Linked DNA regions of Homo sapiens. The protein of the gene in region 2 interacts with the protein of the main gene of each other region in a pairwise test. Each region holds a gene or a part of one and is shown on either strand. Other genes may lie near its edges.

Evidence for each region. Proteins that work in one complex are often made in the same cells at the same time.
Region 1: the proteins of HLCS (region 2) and DDX52 interact in a two-hybrid assay, tested with the Homo sapiens proteins (one large-scale study listed by BioGRID and IntAct).

What each region holds. Positions count from the first base shown.
Region 1 is NC_000017.11:37,629,947-37,633,446, reverse strand, and holds part of DDX52 (probable ATP-dependent RNA helicase DDX52), read left to right. Parts: intron 1-28; coding exon 29-159; intron 160-1,148; coding exon 1,149-1,334; intron 1,335-3,273; coding exon 3,274-3,417; exon of another isoform or gene 3,418-3,500.
Region 2 is NC_000021.9:36,938,365-36,943,820, reverse strand, and holds part of HLCS (biotin--protein ligase), read left to right. Parts: intron 1-4,826; coding exon 4,827-4,989; intron 4,990-5,456. UniProt on the Homo sapiens protein: Biotin--protein ligase catalyzing the biotinylation of the 4 biotin-dependent carboxylases acetyl-CoA-carboxylase, pyruvate carboxylase, propionyl-CoA carboxylase, and methylcrotonyl-CoA carboxylase.

The sequences.
Region 1 (3,500 bases), on a different chromosome or scaffold from region 2:
TCTTTTACTTTTTAAAAATATATTTTAGAAATTGCTTCCCAAGAAGAAGGTGCTACTATACAGTGGATGTCATCTGTAGAAGCAAAGATTGAAGACAAAAAAGTTCAGAGAGAAAGTAAACTAACTTCCGGAAAGTTGGAGAATCTCAGAAAAGAAAAGGTTAGAAAAATATTTTGGGGCCAAAAGTATATATATTTTCTGACCTAGTGACTTATTCGCTGGATTTGGGTTATTCTGTTGTTAATGTGAATATAGTTTTGTTAAGATAGAAGGTTAATTACATTCATTTAGATTTTACTTTAATGAAAACTTAAAGCAAAGTAGGCATTTGTGCTGTGGGTGAACATTTTAAAGTTTAAATTGCTGATACATATATAAAATTCTTGACCTGCTCAAGTTTCAAGATTGATAGTATGTTTAGAATTAAATTTTTAAAATTTCGTAACTGCTTTCGATAAACAAACAAAATTTGGCTCCCTTTCTTCTCTGTTGAGCTCACCGGTTTAGAAGGATTTCCTCTGACACAGATTAGAGGGTTAGAATTCTTAAGAAAGGTATTTTATGACTTGGGAATAAGAGGAGTAGGATATGGAAGAAACAACAAATATACCTTTTTTGTGTCTGCTGTACACCTGCCGTATTCCTGATGGAGAGGTGTATTCAGCTCACTTCAGGGATTACTATGGCAATGCTTCAGTAACCCAGAAACCAGAATTTGGCTGTCTCTGGTCCAGAGAATGGGGAAACAAACCAAATCAACACTACTAGACTCCACTTTTTGGCACTCAGTTTTAATAATCAGAGTTTTAGGGTAAATCATCAAAAAGCAATGATACTTGTATGTTAACCACCATATTAAAATAGTAGATGGGTTCAATGCCTGCCTTCTAAGAAGTTTATTTAAGGTTAGAAGTTATGACTATGACAATAACACATTAATATGAAGAAAGCATAGACATTTTATGAAGGTTTTCTATGAAAGGGCATGAAATGTACCTAATATCTGTGATGTTTTGATTCTTGGATTTAACCAAAAAGTTTCATATGCTGCTAAAGGTTATCCCAGAAACTGTTAATGTTGCTTTATAACATCTGAGAATGTATTTATTTGGCCATATCCATGGTGGCCTCTTTACTTCACTTTTCAGATAAACTTCTTGCGGAATAAACACAAAATTCACGTCCAAGGAACCGATCTTCCTGACCCAATTGCTACATTTCAGCAACTTGACCAGGAATATAAAATCAATTCTCGACTACTTCAGAACATTCTAGATGCAGGTTTCCAAATGCCTACGCCAATCCAAATGCAAGCCATCCCAGTTATGCTGCATGTGAGTATGAAGATCTAGAATGCCTGTAACATTCCTTCCTCTGTGTGTTTGCTCATTCTCTTCCCTCTCTTCTTGAACTCTTTCTTTCCACCTTATCTCCCCTGTTAAAATCCTTCACTTCCTTTTAAGGTTCATCAAATGCCTGTGCCTCCATAAAAGTTGTCTTGATCACTCCATCTAGATGTGATCTTCTTCCTTTTCTAGTACCCTTTCCCCCACACTGCAGTTCTTCCATGGTATTTGGTGTGTTCTTTTCCTTGCAACATTTATTTTACATTTTAAACTACTTTGTATTCGCACCAATCATATTTATCTTTTTCATTTTACTAGTGTGTAACCCCTTGGAGAATGGGGATTATGTTCTATTCATTCATACATTCATTATTTAGTTTATAATGCCCAGGAACTACTCCAGAAATACAAATGCTTTCTAAAGTTCTTGTACATAAACTGACTTATTTTTCCGAATACTTTTTATTATTAAAGTATACTTTACATACAATAAAATGCATAGATTTTTAAGTGCCCAGTTTAGTGAGTTTCAGCAATGCATGCCCTGTGTAACCACTATTCCAGTGAAGATAGAGAACATATGTATTACCCCAGACAATTTTCTTGTGCCCTTTCCATTCAGTCCTCACCCTGCCCCTGCTCAGAGGCAACTGCTATTCTGATTTCTACTGCTGTATATTCCTTTTGCCTCTTCTAGAGTTTTATATGAGTGGAATCACACATTAATCTTTTATTTCTGGTTTCTTTCACTTTGCGTAATGCTTTGAGATTCTTCTGTATTACATAGAGCAATAGTTTGTTACCAAGTAGTATTATGTTGTATGAATATACCACAATTTGTTATCCAGTCACTTGTTGATAGAGGTATGGATTAACTTAGGTTTTCGGACGTTAAGTTTTTCTGAGGTTTGTTTCTGTAGCAATAAGAGTTGGGTTTTTTCCCCATGTAACCGAGATGGCCTTCAGTTCTGGTTTCCAAAGGATATAAGATACCTTTTCATCTCTATACTAGTCCTTTTCATTTTCTTTGAGAGATGAAATGAGAATACATTCATACATTTAAATGATGCTGTTGACTTATGTTATAGTAAATTTGCTTTTAATTTTTGTTTAAGATTGTTTCTGTCATGGCTTTAGCTTAAAGCTTAAAAAATCACAGTGGGCCAGGTGCGGTGGCTCACGCCTCTAATCCCAGCACTTTGGGAGACCGAGGCGGGCAGATAACGAGGTCAGGAGTTCAAGACCAGCCTGGCCAATATGGTGAAACCCTGTCTCTACTAAAAATACAAAAACTAGCTGGGCATGGTGGCGTGTGCCTGTAATCCCAGCTACTCGGGAGGCCAAGGCAGAAGAACCACTTGAACCCGGGAGGCGGAGGTTGCAGTGAGCCGAGATCTCGCCACTGCACTCCAGCCTGGGTGACAGAGTGAGACTCTGTGTCAAAAAAAAAAAAAAAAAAAACACAGTGAGTTTTTGAAAATTGTCTCCTGTAAATTACTCTGCCCTCAGGTCATTGCCATTTTTTATTTCTTCAGCCATTTTGTTGTTCAATAAAACCTTCCCTAGTGATTGAACAATACAGATACCAGGACAAAAAGTTGGTTTTATAATTTTATTTTGACAATAGTTTAGTGGAAAAGAAAAATTGAAATAATGGATATAACTTAGGTTATGGATTATCTTTGGGTTTTAGTTACCCGTATTCTTTACACTCATTCAAAGGGAATTTAAGGGCAATGCTCAGAAACTTTGTTGGGGTGATGGTGGCATGGATGGATGATGTTAGGAAAGCAGATATGACTTGAAAGATTAGATTCATTATGTAAAATTGTATTTGTTTTTTTCTATGGCTGGTAGCGTTATTTGACCAGGCTCTGAAAAATTTATGTACTTTCTTTGTAGTATTTAATATACCCTATGTTTTTAGGGTCGGGAACTTCTGGCTTCTGCTCCAACTGGATCTGGAAAAACATTAGCTTTTAGCATTCCTATTTTAATGCAGCTGAAACAACCCGCAAATAAAGGCTTCAGAGCCCTGATTATATCACCAACACGAGAACTTGCCAGCCAGGTATGACTTGTAGCTTTTGAAGAGTATGCGATTGGTTTTTACTTCAGTGATCTTTCTTATTTGAAGGTAATAAAAAGATCTTA
Region 2 (5,456 bases):
TTTAGACAGGGTCTCACTCTGTTGCCCAGGCTGGAGTGTAGTGGCATGATCACAGCTCACTGCAGCCTCAACTTCCCAGGCTCAAGCGATCATCCCACCTCAGCCTCCTGAGTAGCGGGGACTACAGGTGCCCATCAACACACCTGGCTCCTGGCTATTTTTTGTAGTTTTTCATAGAGACAGGGTTTTGCCATGTTGCCCAGGTTGGTCTTGAATTCCTGATCCTTCTGCCTCAGCCCCGCAAAGTGCTGGGATTTACAGGAGTGAGCCACCGCACCCAGCCTCATTCTCAGATATTTGCTGTTGTTGAGCTTCTTGTTTTTGCCAAATATGCTTGCATTTGGCTTTCTTGAGTTTTGCTCCAAGGTTTTTGAGCCAAACCTACAGTACTTTTGGATCTATTTCCATTTTGGAGACCATATCTTTCTGAAGGCTGGGGTTTGGGTATACGTTCTTATTGAACAAGTTCAGATCTTCCAGTTGTTTCTCAGTGAACGTAGTTTGTTTCTTTTGTGAAGGCCTCTGGGGCTTGCCTTTGGGAAGATCCTCTGAGCCTAATCTAGATGTGTTCGTATGTTCAGGTCCAGTTATCTTAGGTATATACTGGGGAGTAGAATTACTAGATCATATGGTAACTCTATGTTTAACTCTTTGAGGAACTCCCAAAGTCTTCCAAGGCAGCTGCAGCACCTTAATTTCTACCAGCAGTGTATTAGAGTTCCAGTTTTTCCTTGTCCTTGTTGGTATCTTTTTTGATTCCAGCCATCCTAGTGGGTATGACTTTGTGTCTCACTGTGGTTTTGAGATGCATTTCCTTCGTGACTGATGTTGAGCAGTGTTTCTTGTGCTTATTGGGCGTTTGTATATTTTCTTTTCTTTCTTTTTTTTTTTAAGATGGAGTCTCGCTCTGTCGCCCAGGCTGGCGTGCAGTGGTGCAATCTTGGCTCACTGCAAGCTCTGCCTCCGGGGTTCACGCCATTCTCCTGCCTCAGCCTCCCTAGTAGCTGGGACTACAGGTGCCTTTGCCGGGTGCCTTACATCCTTTGCCCATTTTTAAATTGGATTGTCTTTTTATTGTTGAGTTGTAGGAGTTCTTATATGATTTGCCAATACTTTCTCCTATTTTTCTGTGTTGTCTTTGCATTTTCTTGATATCTTTTGAAGCACAAGAATGTTTGATGAAGTTCAATTTATCTATTTCTTCTTTTGTTGCTTCTGTTTTTGGTGTCTTATCTAAGAAGTCATTGGTTGATCAAAAGTCATGACAATTTATGCCTGTGTTTTCCTTCTCTGAATTTTGTAGTTTTAGCTCTTATATTGAGGTCTTTGATCCAGTTTGAGTTAATTTTTGTACGTGGTTTGCATGATGTGAGGAAGAGGTTTATCCTCATTCTTTTTTTTTTTTTTTTTTTTTTTTTTTTTGAGACGGAGTCTTGCTCTGTCGCCCAGGCTGGACTGCAATGGCGCAATCTCAGCTCACCACAACCTCCACCTCTCAGGTGGGATTGCAGGCGTGAGCCTCCGAGCCTGGCCAGTTTCTCCTTTTTCTAAAAGAGGTCTTTAACGCTTCTCTATCTGTGGTTTTTTTCTTTTTCTGTATCAATTTAATGCAAATCTGAGTCTTTTAAAGTTTAATAGGTTTTTTTTGAGACTGTCGCCAGGCTGGAGTGCCCAGGCTGGAGTGCCAGGCTGGAGTGTTGGCTCACTGCAACCTCTGCCTCCTGAGTTGAAGCAATTCTCCTAGCTTCAGCCTCCTGAGTAGCTGGGATTACAGGTGCCTGCTCCCACCTAGCTAAATTTTGTATTTTTTTTTTTGAGACAGTTTCGCTCTCATTGCCCAGGCTGGAGTGCAATGGTGCGATCTCGGCTCACTGCAACCTCTGCCTCCCGGGTTCAAGTGGTTCTTCTGCCTTAGCCTCCTGAGTAGCTGGGATTACAGGCACCCGCCAGCACGCCCAGCTAATTTTTTGTATTTTTTAGTAGAGACAAGGTTTCACTATGTTGGCCAAGCTGGTCTCGAGCTCCTGACCTCAGGCAGTCCACCTGCCTTGGCCTCCCAAAGGGCTGTGGTTACAGGCGTGAGACACCGCGCCCAGCCAATTTTTGTATTTTTAGTAGAGATGGGGTTTCACCATGTTGGTCAGGCTGGTCTCAAACTCCTGGTGGTCTACCTGCCTCGGCCTCCCAAAGTGTTGGGATTACAGGCATGAGCCACCATGCCCAGCCTATGTTCATTCTTTTACACGTCAGTATGTAGTTGTACCAGTACCATTCGTTGAAAAGACTATTATTTCCTTATTGAGTTGTCTTGGCACCCTTGTCCAAATTCAGTTGTCCATGAATCTGTTTATTTCTATACTGTCAGCTCTGTTCTCTTGGTCTATATGTGTTAGTCTGTTTTCACACTGCTAGAAAGAACTGCCCAAGACTGGGTAATTTTTAAAGGAAAGAGGTTTAATTGACTCACAGTTCTTCATGGCTGGAGAAGCCTCAGGAAATTTACCATCATGGCAGAAGGCAAAGGGGGAAGCAAGGTATGTCTTACATGGTGGCAGGTGAGAGACAGAGACAGAGAGGAAACTACCAAACACTTTATTGATTGATTGATTGAGACAGAGTCTTGCTCTTTCACCCAGGCTGGAGTGCAATGGCATGATCTCGGCTTACTGCAACCTCCAACTCCTGGGTTTAAGCGATTCTCCTGCCTCAGCCTCCTGAATAGCTGGGATTATAGGCACCCACAACAACGCCTGGCTAATTTTTGTGTTTTTAGTAGAGACGGGGTTTTACCATGTTGCCCAGGCTAGTCATGAACTCCTGAGCTCAGGTGATTTGCCCACCTTGGCCTCCCAAAATGCTGGGATTACAGGTATGAACCACCGCGCCCAGCCCAAACACTTCAAAAGTATCAGATCTCATGAGAACTCACTATCACGAGAACAGCATGGGGGAAACTGCCCCCAGGATCCTGTCACCTCCCACCAGGTCCGTCCCTTGACACATGGGGATTACAGTTCGAGATGAAATTTGGGTGGGGACCCAGCCAAACCATATCTCTATATGTCTATGCTTATGCCAGTTGGACGATGACTTTTGAAACCCAAGTTGCTTGGATGAGCAAGGACCCTGGGGGCAGAAGTGGCGTGTCTTGCAGGAATACCCCTTTCCTCTGTAGGTTCAGGATTTATCCCACACTTGGCCTGGAAGTTCACTATTATCTAGTCTGTTCTTCCAGACTTTTAAGGTAATGCTTTATTCATTTATTTTATCTAGCATTTAAAAAATAGTTTTTAGGAGGAGTTAGTTCTAAAATCCTAGCCCACCAATATCTAAAATAGAATTCAAGCCCAGTGTGGTGGCCCGAGCCTGTTGTCCCAGCTACTCGGGAGGCTGAGGCGGGAGAATTACTCAAGGCCAGGAGTTCAAGACCAGCCTGGGTGATAGAGCGAGTACTCATCTCAAAAAATAAATAAATACAAATAAATAAAAATGGAATAAAAAATTATTTATCTATAATTATGAAATTCGGGGCAGTGTGTCCCTGAGAAGGTATCTTTAGGAAGTAGAGCAATCGTTCATGGCATCTTAGAAAAAGACTGTGCTGCTCACTGCTGCTTTTAAAGCCACATTTGTGACAGCTAATAAAAGCAGCTGTCGGTAATTGAGTACTTTATTCCAGTCAATCTAAGCTTTTTACTGGGGGCATTACGTATACTCTTTGATCTCATGAACACAACCAACCTTTAAATTATATTTATTTATTTATGTTTTTGAGATGGAGTCTTGCTCTGTCACCCAGGCTGGAGTGCAGTGGCACGATCTCAGCTCACTGCAACCTCTGCCTCTTGGGTTCAAGCGATTCTCCTGCCTCAGCCCCCCGAGTAGCTGGGACTACAGGTGTGCGACACCACGCCCGGCTAATTTTTGTATTTTTAGTAGAGTATTCTTGTTTTACAAATTAGGATGCTGTGAGGGTCGGAAGCTTGCCCGAGGACAGACAGTGATGATTAGTTGCCTTTGACTCGGCCTCAGACCCCTGACTGCAGCGCCGGGCTCTTCACCTCACAGGCTGTCTTCTCCATGGGAACCCTCAGAGAGAGCATGGGTGTTCCAGGCCCCAGTGTCACGGTCTTCTGTAGTAAGAACTGGAAGGCTAAGCCGGGTGTTTTGCCTGCTCTCTTTCTCCCTGTCCCCCTTGTGGTAGGAACGTGAACCTCCTTACAGGGAGGAACTGTCTGGAGAGTCTTTTTGGATTGTTCTCACAGTTCGAGTGCAGGAACCCCAGGGGAAGCATGTTTTAAATCCTGATTCCTGGACTTCAACTCCAGAAAGTCCAGTGCACCAGATAGGGAGGGAGTTGTGCTCGGGACTCTGAAGGTCTCATGTGCTCCCTGGGAGGTCAGTTGCACTTGGTCTCGGACCACACTTTGAGAAAAGCGGGTCCACAGGTTACATTGAAAGTAACTGGGTATTGTGGACTTCTTGTTCTCTCCTCTTCTCTGTTTTTAAAGGGCAGCATGGTGTTTTTCCAGTGTCTGGGGAATGTCCCTTTATCTTTTAATTCCTTAAAAAGGTGGAGACTTCAGTTACTTTTAAATGAGAGAGTTATATTTAGTGTTTCGTAAGCACTGTTGTCAGGTAGAGATGAGAATGCTGAATTCAAAACAACTCTGATATTAGTAAAATGTAATATCCAGTAATTTGTTATTAATGACTGTAATTTAGTGGTAGGAGCCTCAAGGGAAAAATAAAGTATGTGGTTATTTTAGAGAAGAAAAATCTCAACCTGTCTTTTCCCACCTCCTCCCTCTCCTGCTTTTTCTCAGATTGTCAAGTGGTCAGACTGTTGTTTGCCATTAGCTTGCAGACCTGGGGATCCTTATCGGCTAATTGCTGAAGCAAGTGTGGACAACTTCAGCAAGCTGGGGGTGGCGTTCATGGAAGATAGACTCCACATGGATAATGGACTGGTACCCCAAAAGATTGTGTGTAAGTAACTTTAGAAAATGTTTTTATTGGCCAGGCATAGTGGCTCATGCCTGTAATCCCAGCACTTTGGAAGGCCGAGGCAGGAGGATCGCTTGGAGCCCAGGAGTTCGAGACCAGCCTGAGCAGCATAGACCCCTATCTCCAAAAAAACAAACAAACAAAAAAATTAGCTGGGTGTGGTGGTGCATGCCTGTGGTCCCGGCTACTTGGGAGGCTGAGATGGGAGGATCACTTGAGCTGGGAGGTTGAGGCCACAGTGAGCCATGATCACGCCACTGCATTCCCATGTGGGTGACAAAGTGAGACCCTGTTTTTATCATAGTGGGACACTATAAGTTATTAGCTTAAGGACTGTTGAGCACTCTTACTGGTATGACATAAAGGCTATGCTTGGTTTCAGTTTAATTCAGTCCACAGGTTTGATTTTACTGTAATAATATACAATTCATGCATGTGTCAAGATTTTT